4 linked regions of the Homo sapiens genome follow. The protein of the gene in region 2 purifies or fractionates together with the protein of the main gene of each other region. This does not show direct contact. Each region holds a gene or a part of one and is shown on either strand. Other genes may lie near its edges.

Region 1 (6,618 bases), on a different chromosome or scaffold from region 2:
TCTGGCTCCGCCCCCACCCGATTGGCGGAGCGGGTACCACCCCGCCCCCAGGCCGGCTCCGTGCTCGCGATTGGCTGGCGCCTGTCGGTCCGCCTCGGCCCCCGAAACCTGCGGGAGCCCTGGAACCAGACTGGCGGCTGCGGGAGTGAGGCTCGCTCCGCCTGGCCAGGGACGCGGCCGGCGGCTGCACGAGTCAGGCTTGCTCCGGCTGGCCAGGGACGCGGCCGGCACCAGCCTGGGGCGCCCGCTTGGGGGCGGAGCTCCCGGGGCGCCCCCAGGATATGATAGGGCGCTCTGCTCCACTCGCGCTCACTCATTGGCCGGCAGGACAGTCTGTCCCCGCTCCTCCTCCCTATTGGCCCGCTTGGCTCCATTGGTCGTGGTTCCAACCCTGCCGCGGACCTCGCCGCCACTCCCAAGTCCGTCTCACCCCGGACGCGGAGGTCCCGAAAACCCACCCCGGCCCCGCCGCTGCCTTCTCCTCCCACCCATCTCGCCGAGGACGAGGGAAGCAGGACTCCTGCGGCACAGCTGTGTTACCAAGAAGTGTTTTATTTTTCTTGCAGTAGCTTTGTTAATTGCACAAAATCATGTTTTGTTTTTGCCATTTAAACATTATCACACAATCCTATTCTGAAAGACAAATGTTCATTAAAAACAAAGCAAAAATAAAAATTCACAACCTTAATTACCTAGATTTGTCATTTAAAGGTTTAAAGAAAAAAGGGAGGGGCTTTCTTACAAGCTTTTTCACAAGTGTCACATTTTCTCCTTAAAAGGGAAGGATTTCAAAAGAAAGGTGAAATAGCTTAAACAGAAATATTCATAAAAAGGAACTTTACAGAATTGTCAACAATATTAAGACAAAATTGACTAACCGGTTTCATTACCGCATCTTCCCCCGCCCCCACCCCCAGTGTGTTCCGCCAGGACTAGAACAGGCTTTGTGTTCAGACAGAAATGCTTCAAAATCCCAGTGAAATGAACTGTGCTAAAAACCCGACAGGCATCTTCCCTGCCCTCCCCCCACTCGTCTTCTGCAATCCTCTAACCCAGTTTCTAATCTCTGAAAGGGGCCAAAGCTGTGAGGGGGGAAGGACCCCGCCCTAGTGTGGCCACCCTATATATAATTACATATTGCATCGTAAATGCTGGCCTTCCTTCTGCAAATTATGATTTTGGAAAATCCAACCCATGCAGAGGGATAAAAAACTGACATCCCTTGGGTAACTTTTTTTTTTGCAACATTCCAAGCCCCCCCCGGTCCCCTATCCAAGGACAAATGTAGGGCCTCTAGGATGTCCCAGACCCACCTCGGAGGGCCAGTCAGTTCAGGTAGGTCAGGCCCAGTTCTCTTCCCTCCCGACAGACCCCGGGCCCGGGAAGCACCGAAGACCATGATGCTGGCTGGAGTGAAGACACTCGTTTCCGTATCAAGAGCTGAGCCTAAGAAATGCTCATCGTTGGTCAGGCTGGGTCTGGGCCAAAGGGACAGACAGAAAGAAATACTGTCTCCACGGGAGGAAGAGGGAGAGGAGGGAGGATGGAGAGCGGTGGGCATGCAGGGGACTTGGCAGGGCAGGGTGGAGAAGGTGGGACCACTGGGAGGGGACCGAGGTAAGAGTGGCTCTTCAGAGCCAGGTGAAGAGTCTGTGGCCTAACGGAAACAGAAAGGAGCGCCCCCAACCCCCACTCCTCTTGGCTCATCACTAGTGGCCCTGAGGACTCCCTCCCAAGGGATGGAATGCAAATCCAAATACTAAAACAGCCTAGGGAGGAGCGAGCGCCCGCTGTGGCAGTGGCATCTGGGGCATGGCTTCGAGGCGGTGAGGGCCGGGCCTCCATGCTCACCTGCAGGCCGGCTGCTTGCTGCACTCCCTGGAAAGCCAGGGCCCCATCTTCTCGGGACTCTGCCAGTCTCTTTTCAGTTCACAAAGGCGTCTATGGAGCGCTGGGTGCACACTGGACGCTTAGACGTGAACATCTTTCTCAGCTCATCACCTGAGGTTGGAGGGCCCCAAGGGCCCCTCTGTCTGGAGTCTGTACTGGCTCATCTGGGCCCAAGGCCTCTCCTTGTAGGGAATCCAGTGGGGGATGGGGACATGACTACAGCCTCTTCGCTCTGGGGGAAGCTGTGGGAAGGCTTCCAACTCTCGTTGCTGATTCTAGTTCCTTGACTGGAAGGGGTTTGAGATAAGACAAGCTCGGAAGAAAAAAAGCCAGGCAGCAGTTTCTGGGCAGCTTCTATCCTGGGGCGAGAGCCTGTGTGTGTGTGTGTGTGTGTGTGTGTGTGTGTGTGTGAACACACAGCCACCTCGTCCGGGGGGCCAGTGCCCAGCTCAAGAGCTTTCCCACACGCCAATCCTGCTGACACTTGTCCCCTCCCCACCGGCCTCAGGGGAAGGGTGCTGCTGTGTGCTGTGCTGATGGCAAGTCTCAAAGTCTGTATAAAAGGAAATGGAGATAGGTGGGCTGGTCCAGAATGAACTCCCAGGCCCCCGACCCCATGTGAGGAAGAGGGGGTCAGAGGGGGGATTGGAGGGGTGAGGGCGGGGTGTCGACAGCTTAGTGTATGTAGGCTCGGTACACGGCGGACATATCGTTGTCAGACTGGTCCAGCGCCTTGGCTCTTTTGTACACCTGGAAAAAAAAGAGATGGCTCAGTCTCTGGCCCCAGAGCTGCCTTCAAGACCTAGACCTGATTCCTGGAGGCAGTGGTGGATGTGGCCAGCAGGCAGTGCTGGAGCCCAGGCTGTCCGGTTAGGAATCCTGTGTTGACCTTGCATGAAGCACCTCCGTTTCTCTGGACCTCAGCCACTGTGCTTCTTGCTCTGGGAGAAGGAACAGTACCCGGGGGATCTTGTGAGAATGAAATACACTATGGGATATAAAACATTCAGCATTGGCCGGGCACTGCGGCTCATGCCTGTAAGGCCGAGGTGGGTGGATCACCTGAAGTCAGGAGTTCGAGACCAGCCAGGCCAAAAAGGTGAAACCTCATCTCTACTAAAAATACAAAAATTAGGGCCAGGCGCAGTGGCTCATGCCTGTAATCCCAGCACTTTAGGAGGCCAAGGTGGGTGAATCACGAGGTCAGGAGATCAAGACCAGCCTGGTGACCGTCGTGAAACCCCTTCTTTAAAAAAAAAAAATACAAAAAATTAGCCGGGCATGGTGGCAGGTGCCTGTAATCCCAGCTACTCAGGAGGTTGAGGCAGGAGAATAGCTTGAACCTGGGAGGCGGAGGTTGCAGTGAGCTGAGATCACACCACTGCACTCCAGTCTGGGTGACAGAGCGAGACTCTGTCTCAAAAACAAAAAAAGAGCAAAACTGTCTCAAATAAATAAATAAATGAATAAAAAATAAAACAAGGGCAGATGAAACACCCAGGACACCTATACCTCAGAGTGAGAGTTCTCACACCTGTGGTGCTTCTGCCCCCAGGGGACATCTGGTAATATCTGGAGACATTTTCTGTCACCTGAGGAGGAGCTATGTCACTGGCGTCTGGTGGGTGGGCTACCCAACATCCTGCAGTGCTTGGATAGCCCCCCCACACAGAATGGCAGCAGTGCCGAGGTTGAGAAACCCTGCCTTAAAGGATGAGGGAGAGGAAGGGGGAAAGAAATGCTTCTGTGTGGTTGCAAAGTTTTTACATTTAATGGGAAATGGTACAAGATTAACTGTCTTTTTTTTTTTTCTTGAGACAGGGTCTTGCTCTGTTGCCCAGGCTGGAGTGCAGTGGTAGGATCATGGCTCATTGCAGCCTCGAACTCCTGGGCTCAAGCAATCCTCCTGCCTCACCTGCCTCAGCCTCCCAAGTAGCTAGGAATAGGGTGCTCGCCACCACGCCCAGCTAGTTTTTTATTTTTTTTTGTACAGATGGGGGTCTTGCTATGTTGCCCAGGCTGGTCTCAAACTCCTGGGCTTGCTTAAGCCTCGACCCTGCCTCGACCCTGCCTCGACCTCCCAAAGTGCTAGGATTACAAGGATCACAAGTATAAGCCACTGTGCCTGGCAAGATTAACTCTATCTTAAGGATTTATACCGCAATCTGTAGAGTAACCACTAAAAAAAGAATGCAGAGGCAAAGTAAAAAAGAAAATAGATAAATGAAACTGGAATTCTTTTTTCTTTTTTTTTTTTTTGAGATGGAGTCTTGCTCTGTCGCCCAGACTGGAGTGCAGTGGTGTGATCTCGGCTCACTGCCAGCTCTGCTCTGCCTCCCGGGTTCACGCCATTCTCCTGCTTCAGCCTCCCGAGTAGCTGGGACTACAGGCGCCCGCCACCACGCCTGGCTAATTTTTTGTATTTTTAGTAGAGACAGGGTTTCACCCTGTTAGCCAGGATGGTCTTGATCTCCTGACCTCGTGATCCACCCGCCTCGGCCTCCCAAAGTGCTGGGATTACAGGCGTGAGCCACTGCGCCTGGCCCCTTTTTTTTTTTTTTTTTTTTTTGAGACGGAGTCTTGGTCTGTCGCCCAGGCTGGAGTGCAATGGCACGATCTCGGCTCACTGCAACCTCCGCCTCCTGGGTTCAAGTGATTCTCCTGTCCCAGCCTCCGGAGTAGCTGGCATTAATAGTGCCCGCCACTATGCCCGGCTAATTTTTGGTATTTTTAGTAGAGACTGGGCTTCACTATATTGGCCAGGCTGATCTCGAACTCCTGACCTCAGGTGATCTGCCCGCCTCAGCCTCCCAAAGTGTTGAGATTATAGGTGTCAGCCACCGTGCCCAGCTGAAACTGGAATTCTAAAAAGAAAGTAAGAAAGGAGGAACAAACAAAAGACAAAGACAACGAACAGAAATCAAATGATAAAATGGCAGCCCCAAATTGAACCACATATCAATACAACTACTAAAGGTCAATGCACCAGTTAACCTTCAGAACCTAACCTCTGAACTCCTAACAGTATAGAGTCTAAGCTCATACCATCCAAACGACCTGAAAGCAGCGAGCTGCATTGAGAAATTAACCTAAAAACTCTGCTTCCAAGCCAATGAATCCTGTAGTCAGGGTGGAGGCAACTTGGAAGTCACTTCAAAGAGAAGCTTTCCCAGCCCAAGCCACATGAAACCCTTGGGAAATAACTATAGTCAGAAATGAGCTTTCATCAAAAAAGACTTATAAAATACACAACGAATTCTACTATCCAGAGAGAATCCACTGGTAGAATGAACAGGGGGGACTTGAAATAGTAATGTAATCTGAAAGAGTCATGAAATAAGTACTCTGAAATGTTGAAACAGACAAGAGACAGAAGACAGAATTTAGGAACAAGGCTGCATGCGGTGGCTCATGCCTGTAATCCCAGCACTTTGGGAGGCCAAGGCAGGCGGATTACTTGAGGCCAGGAGTTCGAGTCCAGCCTGGTCAAAATGGTAAAACCCTGTCTCTACTACAAATACAAAAATTAGCCAAGTGTGGCGGTGCATGCCTGCGGTTCCAGCTACTTGGGAGGCTGAGGCAGGAGAATCACTTTAACCCAAGAGGTGGGGGCTGCAGTGAACTGAGATCATGTCACTGCACTCCAGCCTGGGCAACAGAGTGAGACTCTGTCTCAAAAAAAAAAAAAAAAAAAAATACAATTCAGGAACAGAGAATTATACTATGAAAAGCCAGGTGTCAAAAGAACAGTACTGGCTGGGTGCCATGGCTCACGCCTGTAATCCCAGCACTTAGGTAGGCTGAGGTGGGTGGATCACCTGAGGTCAGGAGTTTGAGACCAACCTGGCCAACATGGTGAAACCGTATCTCTACTAAAAATACAAAAAGTTAGCCAGGAGTACTGGCAGGCACCTGTAATCCCAGCTACTGTGGAGGCTGAGGCAGGAGAATCACTTGAACCCAGGAGGCAGAGGTTGCAGTGAGCCGAGATTACACCATTGCACTCCAGCTTGGGCAACAAGGGTGAAACTCGGTCTCTAAAATAAAATAAAATAAAATAAAATAACATAAAATAAAAGTGTATCAGCTGATAGTACTTTAAAAATACAGCTGCTGTTTCACAAAGTGTCATTTTTATTATAATAATATGGTAAAGACAAATGTTTTTCAGTTGTTTTTTTTTTAGATTCAAATTCTATGAAGATGAGCTAAGAAAGCGGAACTTCTACCCTAAAAAGCTTTTCGAAAGTGTATGTGAAGTTGGATACAGTTGTGCACGCCTATAGTCCCAGCTACTCGGGAGGCTGAGGTGGGAGGATTGCTTGAGCCTAGGAAGTCAAGGCTGCAGTGAGCTATAATTGTGCCACTGCACTTTACCTGGGCAAGAGAGTGAGACTGTGTCTCAAATATAAAAAAAGTGCACGTGTTAAGTGCTTAAAACATCATTTGAAAAATGCTAATAGACATGCTAATTAAAAGGCAGATACTGTCAAAATGGATAAAAATCCAAACCCCAATTACATACTGTCTATCAAAGCCATAATTTAGACATAAATAAGAGAGGAAATGGATGGAAAAATATACATACCATGAAAACAATAAGCCTGAGAAGGCTGTAGCAGCTTTCGTTTTTTTTTTTTTTTTTTTGCGATGGAGTCTCACTCTGTTGCCCAGGCTGGAGTGCAGTGGTGCGATCTAGGCTCACTGCAACCTCCCGCCTCCCAGGTT
Region 2 (7,032 bases):
CAGGAGTTCAAGAGCAGCCTGGCCAATGTGGCAAAACCCTGTCTCTACTAAAAATACAAAAATTAGCCAGGCATGGTGGCGCGTGCCTGTAATCCCAGCTACTTGGGAGGCTGAGGCAAGAGAATCGCTTGAACCCAGGAGGCGGAGGTTGCAGTGAGCTGAGATCACACCACTGCACTCTAGCCTGGGTGACAGAACAAAAAATAAATAAATAAATAAATAAATAAACCTCAAAAAAGTAAATAAATAAAATAAATAGTTTTAGCCATTTTTAAAATGGTAAAAAACAAACAAAAAATAAATACTTTATCTCAAAAAATAAATAAAAATAGTTTTAGCCATTTTTAAAATGGTAAAAAACAAACAAACAAAAACTGTTACAAACAAAAATAGAGTGCTATGATGACCAAAAAAGTAAAATGCGAATAAGAAGCAACTACTAAGATGCCAAGTAAGACAAACTTAAAAAAATGAGTAATAAGACTTAAAAGGGCTAGAGATCCAGAATATATAAAGAATTAAAACCACAATGAGGGCTGGGCGCGGTGGCTCACGCCTGTAATCCCAGCACTTTGGGAGGCCAAGGTGGGCAGATCACGAGGTCAGGAGATCGAGACCACCCTAGCGAACATGGTGAAACCCTGTCTCTACCCAAAATACAAAAAAAAAAAATTAGCCAGGGGTGGTGGCATGCACCTCTAGTCCCAGCTACTCAGGAGGCTGAGGCAGAATGGCGTGAACCCAGGAGGCGGAGACTGCACTGAACCGAGATTGCACCACTGCACTCCAGCCTGGGCGACAGACCGAGGCTCTGTCTCAAAAAAAAACAAAAACAAAAACAAAAACAAACAAAAAAAACCACAGTGATACAATTTCACATTCCTTGTATTGGCACAAATTTTTAAAAGCTGACGATACCACTTGGCCACTATGTGAGGCAAGGGAAGGCTCTTATTCTTCTGGTGGGAGTATAACTTGGCAAACACACTTCGGAAAACAATTTGGCATTATCACATAAAACTTTAAGAATCAAAATTCCACTCTCCCTCTCTTTCCACGGTCTCCCTCTCCCTCTCTTTCCACGGTCTCCCTCTCCCTCTCTTTCCACGGTCTCCCTCTCCCTCTCTTTCCACGGTCTCCCTCTCCCTCTCTTTCCACCGTCTCCCTCTGATGCGGAGCCGAGGCTGGACTGTACTGCTGCCATCTCGGCTCACTGCAACCTCCCTGCCTGATTCTCCTGCCTCAGCCTGCCGAGTGCCTGCGATTGCAGGCGCGTGCCGCCACGCCTGACTGGTTTTCGTATTTTTTTGGTGGAGACGGGGTTTCGCTGTGTTGGCCGGGCTGGTCTCCAGCTCCTAACCGCGAGTGATCCGCCAGCCTCGGCCTCCCGAGGTGCCGGGATGGCAGACGGGGTCTTGCTCACTCAGTGCTCAATCTTGCCCAGGCTGGAGTGCAGTGGTGTGATCTCGGCTAGCTACAACCTCCACCTCCCAGCCGCCTGCCTTGGCCTCCCAAAGTGCCGAGATCGCAGCCTCTGCCCTGCCGCCACCCCGTCTGGGAAGTGAGGAGCGTCTCTGCCTGGCCGCCCATCGTCTGGGATGTGAGCAGCCCCTCTGCTCGGCTGCCCAGTCTGGGAAGTGAGGAGCGCCTCTTCCCGGCCGCCATCCCGTCTAGGAAGTGAGGAGCGTCTCTGCCAGGCCGCCCATCGTCTGAGATGCGGGGAGCGCCTCTGCCCTGCCGCCCCGTCTGGGATGTGAGGAGCGCCTCAGCCCGGCCACCACCCCGTCTGGGAGGTGTACCCAACAGCTCATTGAGAACGGGCCATGATGACGATGGCGGTTTTGTGGAATAGAAAAGGGGGAAAGGTGGGGAAATGATAGAGAAATCGGATTGTTACTGTGTCTGTGTAGAAAGTAGACATGGGAGACTTCATTTTGTTCTGTACTAAGAAAAATTCTTCTGCCTTGGGATGCTGTTGATCTATGACCTTACCCCCAACCCTGTGCTCTCTGAAACATGTGCTGTGTCCACTCAGGGTTAAATGGATTAAGGGCGGTGCAAGATGTGCTTTGTTAAACAGATGCTTGAAGGCAGCAGACTCGTTAAGAGTCATCACCACTCCCTAATCTCAAGTACCCAGGGACACAAACACTGCGGAAGGCCGCAGGGTCCTCTGCCTAGGAAAACCAGAGACATTTGTTCACTTGTTTATCTGCTGACCTTCCCTCCACTATTGTCCTATGACCCTGCTAAATCCCCCTCTGTGAGAAACACCCAAGAATGATCAATAAAAAAAAAAAAAAATCAAAATTCCACTACTAGATCTCTAGGGAAACTCATGTACATGTACACAAAGAAGCATATACCAAAATGTTCAAAGCATAATGGTTTAATAGCAAATACTTAAAACAATATCAATTTTACTTTGTTTTTTCAGAGGCAGGGTCTCATTCTATTGCCCAGGCTGGAGGGCAGTGGCGCAACTGCACCTGACCGCAGCCTTGTCCTCCCAGGCTCAAGTGATCCTCCCGCCTCAGCCTCCTGAGTAACTGGGACCACAGGTGTGTGCCACTGTGTCCAACTAATTTTATTTTTTAATGTTTTTGTAGGAGCTATGTTGCCCGGGCTGGTCTCGAACCCCTGACTTCAAGAGATTCTCCCACCTCGGCCTCTTGAAGTACTGGGATTACAGATATTAGCTACTGAGGCCAGTCTCAATTTTAATAATAAGAAGATCAATATATAAATTGTGTACATTCATGCAAAAGAAAACAATGAAGACATTTCAGGGAATCAGAGTAGACCTTCTCTAAAATTGGTGGGGCCCAGAGCAAGGTTATAAATGGAGGCTTGGATACAAATGTCTAAATATTTAACAGTAATAAATCATGCTGAGCTGGGCTTAGTGGCTCATGCCTGTAATCCCAGCAGTTTGGGAGGCTGAGGCAAGAGGAATGCTTGAGCCCAGGCACTCGAGACCAGCCTGGGCAAAATAGTGAGACACTGTCTCTATACACACACACACACACACACACACACACACACACACACACACAAATTAGCCAGGTATGGTGGCACTAGCCTGGTCCCAGCTACTGGGAGGCTGACATGGGAGGATCGTTTGAATCCAGGAGGTGGAGGCTGCAGTGAGCCATATTTGCACCACCACACTCCAGAGTGGTGACAGAACAAGATCCTGTCTCAAAAAAAAAAAAAGTATATATATATGTATATGTATATGTATATGTATATGTATATGTGTGTGTGTGTTTATATATGATATATATAAAATAAAAACTTTAATACAAAAACTTTAAAATTTGTTGTAAAAAAATTTTTTTGGAGACAGAGCCACACTCTGTTGCCCAGGCTGGTGTGCACTGGCATGAACATAGCTCACTGTAACCTCAAAATTCCTGGGATCAAACAATCCTTCTGCCTCAGCCTCCAGCACTGCTAGGACTATGGGCATGCACCACCACGCCCAGCTAATATTTTTTATATAATTATTTTTATTTTTTATTTATTTTACTTGTTTTTTATTTTTTTATTTTTTTATTTTTTTTTTATTTTTTGATGGGGTCTCACTATGTTGTCCAGGCTAGTCTTGAACTCCTGTCCTCAATCCTCTCATCTTGGCCTCCCAAAGCACTGGGAGTACACCCATGAGCCACTGCACCCAGCCCAGGAAAAAAATTTTTTTTGAATTCAAATAATGACTATTTCAAAGCCTTCCGACTGGCATAAGCCAAAAAAGTCTGATAACACCAAGCATTAATTGGCCAGAAAATGAGGAAACTGGGACACTCAGACATATAAGTATAAATTGGCACAGCCACCTTTATACTAATTCGTCAGAATCTGGAAAAGTTGAAGCTATGTAACAATTCAAACCAACAATTCCACTTCCTAATGATCTACCCTGGAAAAGCTCTAACCATGAGCACCAGGAAACACTTGCACGTAAATTCTTGGCAGCACGATTTGGTATAACAAAAACCTGGAAATATACTATATATCCATTACTGGGGGGAATAGGTAACTGAACTGTGGTATAAATCCTATGATGAAATACTTTTCAACTGTTAAAATGAATAAACTAGGTCCTTGTGTAGCAATATGAATAGATCTCCAAAACACAGCATTGAATAAAAATTCTAAAACACATAAAATACTACATTTTGTATATGGATGCAAACATATACAAGAGGAAATTATAAAATCATGGAAGGACAAGATACACACCAAAATCATGATTGAAGCTGCTTCTTAGGAAAGGGAAATGAGACTGGGGATGAGAAAAAAATAACCTTAGGTCTGTTATGATTGTTTAGTATATTTTAAAAGAGGAGCAAAACTGAAAAATGTGAACACTTATTTATCCCAGGAGGTGAGTTATAACTTTTATGGGTTCAGAATAAATATTCTCTGATGCTTGCGTTTTTCAGTATTCTATTCAACTTGCGAAACAGTCAACTAGTCCTCTTCCCATCTACCCACCCCCACCCAAAATGTGAATTAACCGAAAAGGAAAGACATACAAACAGGAAAGAACCCAGAGGAAACACCCACATCGGCAAAAACCGCAAAGCAAGGTAAAGACCCTTAGGCAGCCTGCTTGAAACAGTTAACAGAAATCATGCAGGCAAAATAAATTTTTGAATTAATAACTTCATATAGTTACTGGACAATGTAAGTAGCTAGTTAAGAAGTCAAGGCCGGGCGCGGTGGCTCACGCCTGTAATCCCAGCACTTTGGGAGGCTGAGGTGGGCGGATTGCCTGAGCTCAGGAGTTGGAGACCAGACTGGGCAACATAGTGAAATCCCGTCTCTACTAAAATACAAAAATGAAAAAAAATTAGCCAGGCGTGGTGGCAGGCGCCTGTAGTCCCAGCTACGCGGGAGGCTGAGGCAGGAGAATCGCTTGAACCGGGGAGGCGGAGGTTGCAGCGAGCTGAGATCACGCCACTGCACTCCAGCCTGGCAACAGAGCGAGACTCTGTCACAAAAAAAAAAAAAAAAAAAAAAAAAGTCAAACAAGGCCGGGAGCGGTGGCTCATGCCTGTAATCCTGCACTTTGGGAGGCTGGGAAGATTGCTTAAGCCTAGGAGTTTGAGAGCAGCCCAGGCAAAATGGCAAAATCCCATCTCTACTAAAAAATACAAAAATTAGCTGGGTGTGGTGGCACATGCTTGTAATCCCAGCTACTCGGGAGGCTGAGGCAGGACAATCGCTTGAACCGGGGAGGCGGAGGTTGCAGCGAGCTGAGATCACGCCACTGCACTCCAGCCTGGGTGACAGAGTGAGACTCTGTCTCAAAAAAAAAAAAAAAAAAAAAGAAAAGAAAAGTTAGCCGGACATGGTGGCGCCCACCTGTAGTCCCAGCTACTCAGGAGGCTGAGGGAGGAGGATCATCTGAGCCTAGGAATTCGAAGTGGCAGTGAGCTATGACCGTGCCACTGCACTTCAGTCTGGGTGACAAAGCAAGATCTCATTTCTAAAGAAAAAAAAAAGGAAGTCATGCAGATCTAGGTTCAAATACCAATCCTGCCAGCTTCTAGTTATGTTACTTTCAGTAGATTTCTGAAAGGCTCCATGCCCGAGTTTCCTACAATAAGGATGGGACTTAAAATACTACCTTAGGAGCTATCCTAAAGACTAACCTGGATATCATCTCCAAAGTGCTTATCATAGTGGTTGGCACATAGTTATTTGTTCGATAAATAGTGATTATTTTTGCATCAGAAGTGGGATTAGAACTCCATGTGTGGGCATATATTTCAGCAAAGCAAATAGAAATATCCAAACCGATTCACCAAAACAATTATCCAACATTGAAGCAAGCCCTGTTGTCAACTAAAATGTATCACTAAAAACATTGCAAAAGAAAAGACAGGAACTACAGAATAGACAGGATAAATCCTATCTATAAATAATAGTACCACAGACAAAATTTTATACACCCAGCACAATGCAAATCGTCCCCCTGTAAACAGAGACCAGTTTAGTGAACTGAATAGTAATGTCAAGATGGGTATCAATTAGTTAACAGACCCCATTAACTGGTAATCTACAAAGAAAGTTCTTAAACTCACAAGTGGCAAGTTTTGGAAGACAAGGTTTTATTACTCGCTAAGAGGAGAATATTTTTAAAACATAAGTAGGGAGGAAAAAAACATGTTTTCTAGGACCCGAGGACAAAAAAAAAATTCTCCCAGAGGTCCTTATTACAACACTTTATACATTAATAGATTAAAAGTTTGTAATTCCCAAATTCAAAAGTGATATAAAATGAAATTAAAAATATGGCTCTGCCAATAAATGTTAGGAAATAAGATTTTATCACTCTACTAAAAAAAATAAACTTTATTGACTTCTCTGGAGGGTCCATCCAAATTTAGATAGACCAAATAATCCCTATATTATATATATTCTTATAAAAGTGGAGGTTAACAACCCAATTAACGAGTTTAAAACAGTTTTGCTGTTTCAAACCAGGGAAAAATATACCATAATAAACTTCATAAAACTAAAATTTCTAAGCATATTGCCTACAACAAATTGAAACAAAGTATTTAAATGTTAGATATGTAACATATGAAAACAATTATAGGCCAGGTGAGGCAGTGGCTCAGGCCTGTAATCCCAGCACTTTGGGAGGCCTAGGCCGGCAGATCGCTTGAGCTCAGGAGTTCGAGACCGGCCTGGCCAACATCGCGAAACCCCATCTCTACTAAAAATACAAAAAATTAGCCAAGCATGGTGGCACACACCTATAATCCCAGCTACTTGGGAGTCTGAGGCAGTAGAATTGCTTGAACCTGGGAGGCAGAGTTTGCAGTGAGCTGAGATCGGGTCACTGCACTCCAGCCTTGGGTGACCCTATCTCAAAAAATTTTAAAAAAATCTTTTTTTAAAAGGATTATGTCTATGTATCCTTTTCCCTGAAAATAAAAGTTGGATTTATAAGACAATCAGGGAAATTTGAATACCAACTGGACAATAGATGATATTAAAATTGTAATTTTTTTT
Region 3 (7,995 bases), on a different chromosome or scaffold from region 2:
GGCCACCCGCTGGAAAACAGGAGCCAACTGACCCCGGAAATCAGCTCCCACCCGGCTGAAGGACAGCCCAAAGTACATGCACTGGCCCAGCAGAGAGTCCAGGTGGCCGCCTATGCCCCGGTAAAGGTCGGTCTCCAGCACCTGCAGGAATTGTGAGACCTTCTGTAGCACCCAGCCATGGAAGATGGCACTCTCATTCACAGTGTGCTCACCCATGGCAGGGGGCAGCAGTGGGTCCTCGTCTGAGAAGATGGCACGGTACTGGGTGATGATATCAAAGAGATGGACACGGGAGGCCTCGATGGTTTTTGTAATATGGAAATAGGGATCATCATTAGGAATGGCAGTCAGGATGGACCGGAGCCAAGCATCTCGGGCCTGAAGAAACTTCACCCTCAACTCAGCCTCAGTGAAGACGTCCATGCGCCGCAGGTAGCCAATGACACGGAGGCAGGCAGGAAGCTGGATGTTGGTCCTCAGTTGCTGGATCAGCTGGCTCAGCATCAGCTGCATGGACTGGCGCACTTCGTTCACGATGCCCTGACAATACACAGAGAGAGTCACACTGCGCTGGGAAGGATGCTCTCTAGAACCCATTCCCCTAACTCTGAAGACTGCAGACCAACATTCCCATGGCTTTCCTGAAATGTGAAGTAATTTCCTAAAGCTGATGCCTGTAGGTTCACCAACAAAGATCAGGTTAGTTAACTCTCTTGCTTAAAAAGCTTAAAACCTGGCCAGGTGCAGTGGCTCAAACCTGTAATCCCAGCACCGTGGGCAGGCAGGTCACTTGAGGTCAGGAGTTTGAGACCAATCTGGCCAACATGTGAAACCTCGTCTCTACTAAAAATATAAAAATCAGGTGGGTGTGGTGGTGCAGGCCTGTAATCCCGGTTACTCGGGAGGCAGAGGCAGGAGAATCACTTGAACCCGGGAGATAAAGGTTGCAGTGAGCCAAGGTCGCACCACTGCACTCCAGCCTGGGGGACAGAGCGAGACTCTGTCTCAAAAAAAAAAAAGAAAAAAAAAAAAGCTTAAAATCCTCCAGTGACTTCCCACTGCAATCAAGAAAATTCCAACCACTTGTTGGGACTTACACTGGTGGCCCTACCTGGCTCTCCATCTTCACCTGCTTCCTAGTGCTCTCCCGCTGCTACAATCCATTAACCCTGGCTGCCTCTGTATCCCTTAAACACCTCAATTTCTGCCCACTTCAGCCCTCTCTACTTGTTCTTCACACTTTCTGGTTTGCTCTCTCCCCAGATCTTTGTGGGCTGGCACCTCCTTCTCATTTAGGTCTCAGCTTAAATGTTACCTCCCTAGAAGAGTCCTTCTTGATCACCCTACCTAAAGAAACCTACCCTAGACTCCCTTACCCCATTCCCTGTTTTTTTCTTCAGACACCACTATCTGAAATGATATCATTTCTTTGTCAATTATCAGACTTCCCATTAGCACGTAAGCTGCATGAGAGCCAGGACCACTTTATTCACACTGTATCCCCAGCATATAGAGCAGTGCTTGGCACATGATTAATATGTATTTTGAATAAATGAATGTTTTCTGTTCAGGCATACCTGGCTGGCAGAAACTGATGTGAAACATGCAAGAGTTTCTACCTAAAGCTTCAGTCCTGACCACAGAATAAATGATTACAAGAACATTACTTTGAGTCCTCTCTGGGCAAGGTGGCTACCTGGATGACAGGGATGGAAGAGTATTTCCTCTCCAGTCGGCGTACGTAGGCTGCAAGCTCCAGGGCCTCTTCATAATAACTGTTCCGGACACAGGTGTCCATGAGCTGAGGAATCTCCAGTATTTCCAAAATTTCTGTGTGCCGGTTTAGGGTCAGGCTATTCATCCGGCGGTTGGAGCTGATCTCCTCGGCTTCCTTCACAAAGTTCCTAGTAATAATCAGAAGAATGTTGATCCTTCACTGCTCTGTACCCAAACCTTAGCTACAGTTACCAAGTACCTGCTATGAACATTGGGCTGGATGATCTATCTGATTTATTCCTCACACCCCACCTATAAGGTAAGTATTATTACAATTGAGGAAATTTTTAATCCCAGAGAGGTTAAGCAACTTGTCCAAAAACATACAATTAATAAATCTAACAGATGGAGATCCAGATATGCCACTTGCTGGCTGTGGCAAGGTACTTGGCCTCTCTGAACCTATTTCCTCATTAGTAAAACGGTATATAGGGCCAGGCGCAGTGGCTCACGCCTGTAATCCCAGCACTTTGGGAGGCTGAGGTGGGCGGATCACTTGAGGCCAGGAGTTCAAGTGAAACCCCATCTCTACTAAAAATACAAAAAATTAGCCAGGCATGGTGGTGCGCGCCTGTAGTCCCAGCTACTCAGGAGGCTGAGGCAGGAGAATCACTTGAACCCAGGAGGTGGAGGTTGCGGTGAGCAGAGATGGCGCCACTGCACTGCAGCCTGGCCAACAAAGCAAGACTCCGTCTCAAAAAAAAAAAAAAAAAAAGTATATAGGACCCTCCTCATAAGGGTGTAAGAACTAAATGAGATGATGTGTGTGAAGCATTTAACATAGAACTTGAAACAGAGCGAATGCGTCAAAGTAAAAATAGTAAAAGAGACACAGTTAAATATTTAACAGTAGCTATCATTATTTTCAAAATGAAGCACTAACTGCCTAGAATCCACAATCTTTCCCCTCAGGTCTTCATCTTCTCCTATGCTAATGTTCAACCATAGTTCCTGCCACAGTCTACTTTCAACACTTCTCCATATTTGCAGAGACCTGCTTTATCAAGTCCCCTATCTATTCTGGAGCATGGAAGGGTACAAAAGCTGCTGTCAAATATCCAAAGGCTCAAAAGAAAAATTAAACTTTAATCATGAAAGGCTGGAAGGCAGAACTAGGGATAATGGAGACAGAATATGACTCACAAAGGACTTTTTTTTTTTTTTTTGAGACGGAGTCTTGCTCTGTCACCAGGCTGGAGTGCAGTGGCACGCATCATCTTGGCTCACTGCAACCTCCGCTTCTCAGGTTCAAGTAATTCTCCTGCCTCAGCCTCCCGAGTAGCTGGGACTACAAGCGCGTGCCACCACGCCCAGCTAATTGTATTTTTAGTAGACATGGGGGTTTCAGCATGTTAGCCAGGATGGCCTCGATCTCTTGACCTCGTGATCCGCCTGCCTTGGCCTCTCAAAGTGCTGGGATTACAGGTGTGAGCCACCGCACCCAGCCTTTTTTTCTTTTTTTAAGAGAGTTTCACTTTGTCACCCAGTCTGGAATGCAGTGGCACAATCACAGCCCACCGCAGCCTCGACCTCCCAAACTGGAGTGCGGTGGCACAATCATGGCTCACTGCAGCCTCAATCTCCCGGGCCCAACTGACCCCCCCACCTCAACCTCCTGTGTACCTGGGACTACAGGCGCACGCCACCACGACCAGCTAATTTTTTATTTTATAGAGACAGGGTTTTGCCATGTTGGCCAGGCTGCTCTCGAACTCCTGGGTTCAAGCCTCAGGCTCCCAAAGTGCTGGGATTACAGGCTGAGCCACCACATCCAGCCATCCAAATGGAGAGACTTTTTGATATCTGATGCCCTCAAATGCGAGGATTTCCTTGTCACCTTCCCGTCAATGGAAGTTTTGAAGCAGATGACCTCCGGTCCACGCTTTCGTATAAAATAAGTATATAAATGTGCACATATATTCAGCTCACACCTATAATGTTAACTGTGTCAGACCCGATAATAAGAGCTTTGCATGAATCCTTTTTCTTTGTGCCCACAACTGCCCTTCGAGGGAGGGACGTGCTTCTGGGTAACCAGTTCTGAATTCGAAACCTCCTAGCTGTGTCCTTGGACGTCACTAATCTCTGTCTTGACTTGCTCATATGTAAAATGGAAATAACAGGGCTGGGCGCAGTGGATTATGCCTGTAATCCCAGCGCTTTGGGAGGCCGAGGCGGACAGATCACGACATCAAAAGATCGAGACCATCCCAGCCAACATGCTGAAACCCCGTCTCTACTAAAAATCCAAAAAAATTAGCTGGGCGTGGTGGCGCGCGCCTATGGTCCCTGCTACTCAGGAGGCTGAGGCAGGAGAATCGCTTGAACCCAGGAGGCAGAGGTAGGTTGCAGCGAGCCGAGATCTCGCCACTGCACTCCAGCCTGGCGACAGGGCGAGACTCCGTCTCAAAAAAGATAAAAAAGGAATAACAGTACCTATCTCGAAGGCTGTTGTGAGGTTTAAATGGATTAATAAAGCGCTCAGCAGAGAACCTGGAACGTGGTAAACGCTTTATGTGTTAGTTATTTCTACCATCGTAAATGTCAGCTTTTACAGTTATAAAACCCCTTTAGCGCCAGGCGCGTCGCACCTGCAGCTCTGCTGGAAGCTGGGCAAACGGTCGAGCAGGCGGCCGAGCGACGCCTCCACGTCGCCAAACAGGCGGTGGATGCGCTCGGTGCACTCGGCGCCGCGGATGAAGGTCTTGTAGTTAGCGAAGGCCAAGTCGCGCGTCTGCTGCAGCAGCTGCGCCCGCTCCTCCGCCAGGCGCTCGGGCTCGCGCCGCAGCCGCTCCAGCCCCGAGCCGCTCAACTCCCGGAGGTAGCGGCCCACATCGGGCCGCTCGCGCCACTGGGCCTCGGGGAAGCGGTCCCGGAACAGCGACGCCAGGAGCCCTTCATCCTCCACCTCGCCGAGAGCCGCTGCTGTGGCCGTGGCTACCGATGGGATAGTCGCCGCGGTCGCCATCTTCCCAGCAACAACGTCACTTCCCTTCCGGACCACAAGGGGCGCTGACTCCGAACTTAGGACAGGAAGAAACAGGCACATTTCCGGTCTCTATGCTTTCTCATCCGGCCGGCTTGCTTTCCCCTGCGGTCGTCCAGACTATTGGGCGCTAGCGAGACGAACTATTGGTACGGGGCTAGAGAGGAAGGCTTTGGGATTGCCGGGGAGCAGCGAGCGACCGACTTCCGTTTCCAGTTACCAAGGCACGAGGATCCGGTGTTCCAACCCAGGGGGAAAAATGCGGCCTTTGACTGAAGAGGAGACCCGTGTCATGTTTGAGAAGATAGCGAAATAGTAGGAGCGCGCGGGGCGGACGCGGGAGTGTGTGGGTGTGGTGGCCAAGGGTGGAGTGGGGGCGCGGTGCCGGAGACCGGTTCGTTCGGGCGCGGTCTCCAGTCCTCTTTTTGCCCTCAGCATTGGGGAGAATCTTCAACTGCTGGTGGACCGGCCCGATGGCACCTACTGTTTCCGTCTGCACAACGACCGGGTGTACTATGTGAGGTGAGGCGGGGCCGGGCAGGCAGCATGGACCCAGGGGAGAGGGGTCCTGGGTCCCACGAGCCTCCTTCATCCGCAACCTTGCTCCCCCTTTACCCTTTTAGTGAGAAGATTATGAAGCTGGCCGCCAATATTTCCGGGGACAAGCTGGTGTCGCTGGGGACCTGCTTTGGAAAATTCACTAAAACCCACAAGTTTCGGTTGCACGTCACAGCTCTGGATTACCTTGCACCTTATGCCAAGGTTTGTGGGGCGGTTTCCAATTCTGCCACGGGCGATGAAGTCAAGGATTAGGCAGATTGTCCGGCAGCTTCTCTCCCACAGAGTCCCTGACAGTGTGCTTGGAGGAGTTTCAGCACATGGAGATGTGTAGAGGTCTTGCAGCTTGAGCATGGTCAGGGCTATGGGATAGGAATGCTATGTGGCTGCGTAGGGTTAGTTTTCTCCAGCGAAGTAGAAGAGCCTAGGGAGACCCAGCTAGAGATCAGAAAGCAAATAAGTGGCAGCAATGAAGACACCGGGGTCCAGAAAAAGAGCTGTTAACCTGGCCATGGAGGATGATCCTTGTAGAGTTGAGAAAATAACTTTTTCTATTTTTTTCTTTTTCTTTCTTGCTCTGTTTTTTCTTTTCATTTCTCTTTCTCTTTCTTCCTGACACAGTTTCACTCTGTCGCCCAGGCTAGAGTGCAGTGGTGCGATCTCACTGCAGCCTCCACTTTCCAGTTTCCAGTGATTCTTGTGCCTCAGTAGCTGGGATTACAGGCATGTGCCACCACACCTGGCTGATTTTTTTGTGTGTTTTTAGTAGAGACAGTGTTTCACTGTGTTGGCCAGGCTGGTCTCGAACTCCTGGCCTCAAGTGATCCACCTGCCTTGGCCTCCCAAAGTGCTGGGATTACAAGCGTGAGCCACTGCACCGGGCAACTTCCTGCATTTCTGTTCAGGAGATAGACAGTTTGAGGAAAACATGAGTCTCTCTGTTTCCCTTAAAATTATTTCAGAAAATTATTCACAGATCCAGCAGCTAGCTTGTCTGCATGGATAGAAATAGTAACGTTTTTATGTCTCTTGGATTTTAATTCTCTTATAGTATAAAGTTTGGATAAAGCCTGGTGCAGAGCAGTCCTTCCTGTATGGGAACCATGTGTTGAAATCTGGTCTGGGTCGAATCACTGAAAATACTTCTCAGTACCAGGGCGTGGTGGTGTACTCCATGGCAGACATCCCTTTGGTGAGTAGAGATGGTAGCTGTTACAGAACTCAAGTACTCTTATTCAAGAAGGGTATGTCTTCAATCTGAGTGCTTGAGAGAATAAATTCTCAGCACGTTTTGAATCCCAGAAAGACCAGAACTGTATTTTTTCCGTCTTTGTTATTTCCAGCCCTCAATATGGGCATATTGAATGACTTCAGTGAGTTAGTGTCTCTTCTTTTGAATCCCAGGGTTTTGGGGTGGCAGCCAAATCTACACAAGACTGCAGAAAAGTAGACCCCATGGCGATTGTGGTATTTCATCAAGCAGACATTGGGGAATATGTGCGGCATGAAGAGACGTTGACTTAAAACGAAGCCATTCCAAGGACAGACGGCTGTATGGAAAGGCCGAGCTTTGTTTCCTGTGTTTGTGTGGACTCCACCATCATGTTGAATTTTGTCAACACTCTGGCCTCTTCAGGGACTTCTTATTTACTGTACTCTCTATCACTGACAAATGCAGGCTGGATTCTTATTATATACAGAGATGGCTCAAAAATGGGGTTTCAGATCTTTGTGACGAAATAGAATACTGTTTCATATTTGAATCAGAGGGCTTCTTGTTCTGAGAAATAGGTTCAAAATCATTGGAACCAGGAACAAGAATAGCTTATTGTTATCTGTGATAACACTGTTTTCTAAACACAAGGATTTTCTTTTTTATTAATATGCAACATAGACATTGCCATAACAGAATAATAAACCACATGTGGGGTTTTAAAAATGAAATTTGGCTAATAGGAGCAATTCAGCTATTTTTCTATACAGTAATTGGTGTGTGGTATAGAAGAAAAACGGGTTCAAACCCCACTTCTGCCACCTACCAGCTATATGGCCTTGAATGAGTCATTCAGCTTTAATAAGGTTCATTTTCTTCTGTTTAAAAAGACACAAAACTTGAAAATCAGCTTTGGCCATCTACCTGAGAATTAGAAAGTCTGATTTTTGGAATTAGAAATCATGATTGTAGGCTGGGCACAGTGGCTCGCGCCTGTAATCCCAGCACTTTGGGAGGCCAAGGCGGACGGATCACTTGAGGTTAGGAGTTTGAGACCAGCCTGGCCAACATGGTGAAACCCCATCTCTACTAAAAAAAAAAAAAAAATTAGGTGTGGTGACACATGGCTGTGGTCCTAGTTACTTGGGAGGCTGAGGCAGGAGAATGGCTTGAACTGGGGAAGCAGAGCTTGCAGTGAGCCAAGATGGTGCCATTGCACTCCAGCCTGGGCGTGACAGAGTGAGACTCCATCTGATTGTAAAGCATCTAGTACAGTGTACAGTGCCTTGGAAATGATAGGTATGGAATAAATGGTAATTATTTTTATATTATATATATTATGTATTCCTGTTATTAAGTGTAGAGTTTTATGAGTATAATTTGATTTTATTACCTTCTTTTTTACAAGCTGTTTTCTCAGTATTTTTCTTGGATGGGATGACGCTAGGCTGGAAAGTTTTTT
Region 4 (6,897 bases), on a different chromosome or scaffold from region 2:
TCCCACTTCAGCCACTGGCAATGGAGGCTTCTGCATGGGTCCCTTGGAAACTGGGACACATTCCTTATAGGGTTTCTTGATCTTGATTACTTTTTTTTTTCCCCCACACAGGGTCTTGCTTTGTCACTCAGGCTGAGTATACTGGCATTGGAACAGGAATTAAAAGAAATTAAAAACTGTGTAAGCAAAAACTCGGTTGTATGTAAAAAAACCCAATTTCCCTTGAGGAAGAGAAAGGGCTGGAGTCCTTTAAAATTAACTGCCTGTTTTTCTTTCTGAGGCTAGTGAGCCTTATCTCTCCCTTTCCCAGGCATTGTGAAGACTCTGTTTCTCTAGCTGTGCAGCTGCAAGGTCACTAGACAGATACTCTCAAGTCGTAAAACGTGTTGTTCCTTGAAAAGTAAGATATAATGTAATGCCATGTCTCAATTGAATAACTGTCTTTGTTTCTCGCTTCTGTAATATGCTTCCCACTGCACAAATCTCCCCCTGCCCCACGAAATGTTTAAAAGGTAGCTTGACTCTTTGTTCAGGGCTCAGTCCTTTGGATGTTAATCTGACTGGGTTTGTGCACCTAAATAATTAAATAATTCCTCCTCAACCCCTCGGTCCCTTTGGTTTCTTAATTATCCCGCAGCAGCATGAACATGGCTCACTGCAGCCTTGACCTCTTGGGCTCAAGCAATCCTCCCACTTCAGCCCCCTAAGTAGCTGGGACTAAGGGCGCATGCCACCAAGCCTGGTTAATTTTTGCATTTTTTGTAGAGACGGGGTTTCACCATGTCGCCTGGGCTGATCTTGAACTCCTGAGCTCAAGCGATCCACCCGCCTGGGCCTCCCAAAGTGCTGGAATTACAGGTGTGAGCCACTGCACCCAGTTAAAGTCACAGATCTCCAAGTCAGGTCTGAGCTCTGTAACATTAGCTGTATGACTCTGGCAAATTAATCTTCCTGCATCTGTTTTTTCATCTTTGAAATAAGAATAACATTAAAATAGTTTATTCTTACTATTTTTTAAAATTAGAATATTGAGAAGAAGGAAAAAAAATACCTATGTTTCCACTACTATAATGGAAACTTTGCCATCATTTTGCTTTTGGTTGACATCTCCCCCTCCCCCATTTTTAAAAATTAAAATTGACTCTCTTTCTTTCCTTCTTTCTTTTTCTTTTTTTAAAGATGATGTCTTGCTATGTTGTCCATGCTGGACTCACACTCCAGAGCCCAAGCGATCCTCCCTCTTCAGCCTCCTGGATAGCTGGGACTACAGGGATGTGCCACCACACCTGGCTTAAACCAATTTCTTTTTAATTCATAATTTTTAAATCAAAACAATTTACTCAACTCTTTATTTTGAAAAGTTTTAAACCTCAAAAAAGTTGAAAGAATAGTACAATGAACACTCACGTACCCTTACTCTAGCACCAATAATTCACCAATTATTAACATTTTGACTGTGTCCCCCTCTGCCATAATATACTTTTCTTTTTTTCTGAAACCAGCTGATTGATTAGGGTGGTGGTTGCTGAAAGGTGAGGTGCTGTGGCAATTTCTTAAAATAACACAACAATGAAGTTTGCTGCATGGATTGACTCTTCCTTTCATGAAAGATTTCTCAGTAGCATGTGATGCTAATTGGTAGCATTTTATCCACAGTAGAATGTTCAAAATTGTAGTCAATCCTCTCAAACCCTGCCACTGCTTTATCAACTAAGTTTACGAAATATTCTAAATCCTTCATTGTCATTTCAACAGTGTTCCCAGCATCTTCACCAGGAGTAGATTGTATCTCAAGAAACCACTTTCTTTGGTCATACATTAGAAGGAACTGTTCATCCATTCAAGTTTCTCACGAGATTGCCACAATTCAGTCATATCTTCAGGCTCCGCTTGTAATTTTAGTTTTCTTGCTATTTCCAACCACATCTGCAGTTACCTCCTTCACTGAAGTCTTGAACCTCTCAAAGTCATCAATGAGAACTGGAGTCAACTTCTTCCGAACTCTTGTTAATTTTGATATTTTGACATCTTCCCATGAATCACAAATGTTCTTAATGATATCTAAAATAGTGAACCCTTTCCAGAAGGTTTTCAATATACTTTGCCCAGATCCATCAGAGGAATAACTCTCTATGGCAGCCATAGCCTTACGAAATGTATCTTAAGTAATAAAACTTGAAATGCAAAATTACTTCTTGATCCATGGGCTGAAGAATGGATCTTGTGTTCACAGACATGAAAACAACATTCATCTCCTTATACATCTCCATTAGAGCTCTCGTGTGACTATGCACATTTTCAATGAGCAATAATACTTTGAGAGAAATCCTTTTTTCTGAGCAGTAGGCCTCAACAGTGGGCTTAAAATATTCAGTAAACCATGCTATGAACAGTTGTGCTGTCATCCAGGCTTTGTTGTTCTACTTACAGAGCACAGGCAGATTATATTTAGCGTAATTCTTAAGAGACCTAAGATTTTTATAATAGAATGGTAAACAAGCACTGGCTTCAATCCAAAGTCACTAGCTGCATTAGCCTCTAACAAAAGAGTGAGCTTGGCCTTTGAGGCCAGACATTGACCTCTCTAGCTATGAAAGTCCTTGATGGCGTCTTCTTCCAATAGAAGGCTGTTTTGTCTACATTGACTACTTGCTGTTCAGTGGCCACCTTCATCAACGATCTTACCTAGATCTTGGGGATAACTTGCTGCAGCTTCTCCATCAGCATTTGCTGCCTCATCTTACACTTTCATGTTCTGGAGACGGCTTCTTTCCTTAAACCTCATGAAATAATCTCTTCTAGCTTCAAACTTCTATAGCTTCCTCACCTCTCTCAGTCATCATAGAATAGAAGAGAATCAGGGCCTTGCTTTGGATTCGGTTTTGGGTTTAGGGGATGCTGTAGCCGGTTTTATTTTCTATCCAAACCACTAAAATTTTCTCCAAATCAGCAATAAACTGTTTCGCTTTCATATCATTCATGTGTTCATTAGAGTAAAATGTTTAATTTCCTTCAGTAACTTTTCCTTTGCATTCACAAACTGGCTAACTTTTTGGTGCAAACTTTCAGCCTAGCTTTCAGCCTATCTTGCCTTTTGACATCCCTTCCTCACTAAGCTTAACCATTTCTAGCTTTTGAGTTAAAGTGAGAGATGTGCGACTCTTTCTTTCACTTGAACACTTAGAGGCCCATTGTAGGGTTATTAATTGACCTAATTTCAACACTGTTGTGTCTCAGGGAATAGAGACCCAAGGAAAGGGAGAGAGAAGGAAGAACGGCCTGTCAGTGGATTAGTCTGAACACACACAACATTTATCAATTACGTTTGTATCTTATATGGGCACAGCTCATGGCGCCCCAAAACAATTACAATACAAGGAACACTCATCACACGTCACCCTTGTAGCAGAGCACATCTCCCTATGATCTAGGTACGAGCATTGTACCTAGGATGGACGCGTTCGTCCTCTTACCTTCGGGAACGCCCTACTCTGTCTACGGAGTAAAGTACTTAATAAACTTGCTTTTGCTTTGCTATGCGGACTCACCCTGAATTCTTTCCTGTGCAAGATCCAAGAACCCTCTCTTGGGGTCTGGATCGAGACCCCTTTCCGGTAACGAAACTACACTAAGAATACAAGAAAACTTACGTTACTGTGCGGGAGCTGACAAAGTCTCTCGCCGGAGGGAGCACACAGAATTTCACCTTCTCCGGCCTTTTCCCAAGCTGGCAGGAGTAAAGCTGTAAGAGGAGGTGCCAGCGCCCCAAGCCAGCTCTCCCGCCGGCACTGCTGCGGTCCGCGAGGCAGCCAATCAGGTAGCTGAGTTTGCCATAGGGGCGGGACTTCCTCCCCAGCGCGCACGAGTACGTGCGTGGAGGTCCCGCCCCGGAACTGCAGTTGCTGCTGCAGCTGAGGTACAGCGGCGGTTTCTGAGGTTCTTCACTCGCGACTGACGGAGCTGCGGTGGCGTCTCCACACGGTGAGTACCAAAACGAGCGGGGTTGGAGCCGACTCTGGAGAGGGGCTGAGGCCAGGAACCCGGGTTCCTATCGCGGGTCGCTCTGGGCCGGTGGGTTCCCGGGTCCAGAGAGGGCGGCCGCCGGCCCAAGCCGTCCAACCGAGCTGCGTGCCACGGTCCCCGCGCCTTGGGCTCCTTGTCCGGTCATCAGAGCCTGACGGCCTTGGCTTCTCGGCTTCTCGGTTTCTCGGTTTCGTGCGCGCGTTCGTGCCTGAGACAAAGCGAGAGGGCCGCGCGGGACCGGCGTCACGAGGAGACAGAGGCCCTTCTACTCTGCCTGGCGCTCTCCGTGTCCTCGCCCGGTTCGCGTGGCACCCCTCGCCCTCTCCTTGTTGAACCCCGCGTGTTTCTTTGTGTTTTTTTTTGTTTGTTTTTTGTTTTTTTGCCGTGGCGCAGCGGGTCCGGCGGGCACTGTGTGCGAACGTGCTCTCCTCGCCGGGCGCCATGCTCAGCGGTTTTTTTTGACGTGCGTCACTTTTTCGTAGTGGCGTATAAGGATTCTGTGGGACAGATGTCCTCGTTTTTCCCATTGTGCAGACTGGGAAATAAGAGACTCAGAGATTAATACGTCCACCGCAGAGCCACAGCTGACAAGTGGTGGATCTGGATTTGAACCAAAGTTTACCTTGGTCTTTTTCACGGAATCTGTTATCTTTCTTGGCCTTTCTGAAAAGGAAAAACCTGGATCGAGTTCCACCCAAACGAGTTGGGCCTAAATGGCCATTAAGCCACTTAAAATATGATGAAGAAACTGGATGGGTTTTAAGACGCTTGGCAAAGGAAAGGATGGTGGAGCAGGCATTTGCTCTCTCAGGCAAGGCTTGAGAAGGAAGCAAGCGCAGTACGCTTTTAATAAAGCTCACCCCTCCTGCCCCCACAAGAAAAACCCCTGAGATTCTTACTCTGCCTTCAGAACGACTTAGGTGTGGCAGGTTTCATCCTCCGTGCTTTACATAATTTTCTTTATTTACATAAAATGTACAACTTAGATATTGTTAGGTACCCTCCCCCCTTTTTATAGATGAGAGCACTGAAGTTCAGAGAGGAGTGGGTGGCACTATCCAAGGTCACACAGGCAGTAAGTGTTGGATTTGGAATTCAAACCAGGTCTAGCTCATATGTCTTTGTTCCATCACATGTGTACCCTGTGTTCCAGGCAAAGCTGTCTGTTCTGTGGTATTCTTTGTTCTTCTCTAGGTGGGAGCAACTGTGTGATAGCCATCTTTGTATCCTCAGTTCTTTGTAGGGCCTAGTTGCTTAGAAAATATTTGTTACATCAGAACCCTCTGCTTCTCAGACACCAACCTAATAGAACATGTATCTCCTTTTCAGCAACCATGAAGTTGAAGGACACAAAATCAAGGCCAAAGCAGTCAAGCTGTGGCAAATTTCAGACAAAGGGAATCAAAGTTGTGGGAAAATGGAAGGAAGTGAAGATTGACCCAAATATGTTTGCAGATGGACAGATGGATGACTTGGTGTGCTTTGAGGAATTGACAGATTACCAGTTGGTCTCCCCTGCCAAGAATCCCTCCAGTCTCTTCTCAAAGGAAGCACCCAAGAGAAAGGCACAAGCTGTTTCAGAAGAAGAGGAGGAGGAGGAGGGAAAGTCTAGCTCACCAAAGAAAAAGATCAAGTTGAAGAAAAGTAAAAATGTAGCAACTGAAGGAACCAGTACCCAGAAAGAATTTGAAGTGAAAGATCCTGAGCTGGAGGCCCAGGGAGATGACATGGTTTGTGATGATCCGGAGGCTGGGGAGATGACATCAGAAAACCTGGTCCAAACTGCTCCAAAAAAGAAGAAAAATAAAGGGAAAAAAGGGTTGGAGCCTTCTCAGAGCACTGCTGCCAAGGTGCCCAAAAAAGCGAAGACATGGATTCCTGAAGTTCATGATCAGAAAGCAGATGTGTCAGCTTGGAAGGACCTGTTTGTTCCCAGGCCGGTTCTCCGAGCACTCAGCTTTCTAGGCTTCTCTGCACCCACACCAATCCAAGCCCTGACCTTGGCACCTGCCATCCGTGACAAACTGGACATCCTTGGGGCTGCTGAGACAGGTAAGGGCAACTCTGGCCAAAGCAGGATTGCTTCTGGATTGAGCCCATAGCTGCTAATAGGCCAGATAATTGGGAGAGAGAAGAATGTTGAAGAACATAACCACAAAAGCAACGCTGAATAAAGGTGTTTAGAAGTCAGCCCCTCTGGTTTGAAATATGCTCTTCTTGAATGGTATCCTAGCCAGATCACTTTTATCTCTCTCAGCTCTGTAGACCCCATTATCAACCAAATGGAGATAACAGTTTCTACCTCTTGCATTGCTGTGAGGGTTAAATGCCACAGTAAACTAAAGCTTACACTGTACATTGGAAGTGGTCTGCAAATCGTAGTTTCTGCTGTTCTTGAGCCTTTTCTAAATAGCTCAAAGGGGTAAGGCAAGGCTAAGATCAGCCCTTTGGAGAGGTAGATCTTCATGAGTATAGGGAAGAACTGTCTAATTCTCAGGAGTTGTGCAAAGGTGAAAAGGGTTGCTGCTTTGGGAGTTGATGAGTTTCTTGTCATTGGAAGGATTTGAGTGTGGTGGGTAGTCATTGGGTGGATTTTGTAAACAGATTCAGCTATGAAGTGTTAGGACTATGCTGTGTTTGAGGTTCCTGCGAGACTTTTGGAAGCAATGACAGGTTGACTTTGCTGGATAGACTAGACTGCTGACTTGGGGGAGGAACTAGTACTGCCTGGAACTATTGGTCTGTTTAGACCAGCAGTGTCCATTAGAAATACATATAGTCATCTCTTGATATCCATGGAGGATTGGTTCCAGGACCTCCCTTGGATACCAAAATCCAGGGATGCTCAAGTCTCTGATATAAAATGGTGTAGTG

Evidence for each region.
Region 1: the proteins of ZC3HAV1 (region 2) and GLYR1 purify together in Homo sapiens (affinity purification with mass spectrometry; 2 studies listed by BioGRID and IntAct, with this or other methods). This does not show direct contact.
Region 3: the proteins of ZC3HAV1 (region 2) and NIP7 purify together in Homo sapiens (affinity purification with mass spectrometry; 2 studies listed by BioGRID and IntAct, with this or other methods). This does not show direct contact.
Region 4: the proteins of ZC3HAV1 (region 2) and DDX24 purify together in Homo sapiens (affinity purification with mass spectrometry; 3 studies listed by BioGRID and IntAct, with this or other methods). This does not show direct contact.

What each region holds. Positions count from the first base shown.
Region 1 is NC_000016.10:4,802,671-4,809,288, forward strand, and holds the end of GLYR1 (cytokine-like nuclear factor N-PAC), read right to left. Parts: intron 2,641-6,618; coding exon 2,566-2,640; 3' UTR 533-2,565; downstream 1-532. UniProt on the Homo sapiens protein: Cytokine-like nuclear factor with chromatin gene reader activity involved in chromatin modification and regulation of gene expression. Acts as a nucleosome-destabilizing factor that is recruited to genes during transcriptional activation.
Region 2 is NC_000007.14:139,099,716-139,106,747, forward strand, and holds part of ZC3HAV1 (zinc finger CCCH-type antiviral protein 1), read right to left. Parts: intron 1-7,032.
Region 3 is NC_000016.10:69,334,809-69,342,803, forward strand, and holds the start of NIP7 (60S ribosome subunit biogenesis protein NIP7 homolog), read left to right. Parts: upstream 1-4,963; 5' UTR 4,964-5,021; coding exon 5,022-5,077; intron 5,078-5,197; coding exon 5,198-5,284; intron 5,285-5,385; coding exon 5,386-5,524; intron 5,525-6,371; coding exon 6,372-6,512; intron 6,513-6,724; coding exon 6,725-6,844; 3' UTR 6,845-7,995. Other genes in the region: COG8 (conserved oligomeric Golgi complex subunit 8), read right to left, coding at 1-540, 1,697-1,904, 4,368-4,744.
Region 4 is NC_000014.9:94,078,203-94,085,099, reverse strand, and holds the start of DDX24 (ATP-dependent RNA helicase DDX24), read left to right. Parts: upstream 1-3,897; 5' UTR 3,898-3,981; intron 3,982-5,352; 5' UTR 5,353-5,357; coding exon 5,358-6,075; intron 6,076-6,897. UniProt on the Homo sapiens protein: ATP-dependent RNA helicase that plays a role in various aspects of RNA metabolism including pre-mRNA splicing and is thereby involved in different biological processes such as cell cycle regulation or innate immunity.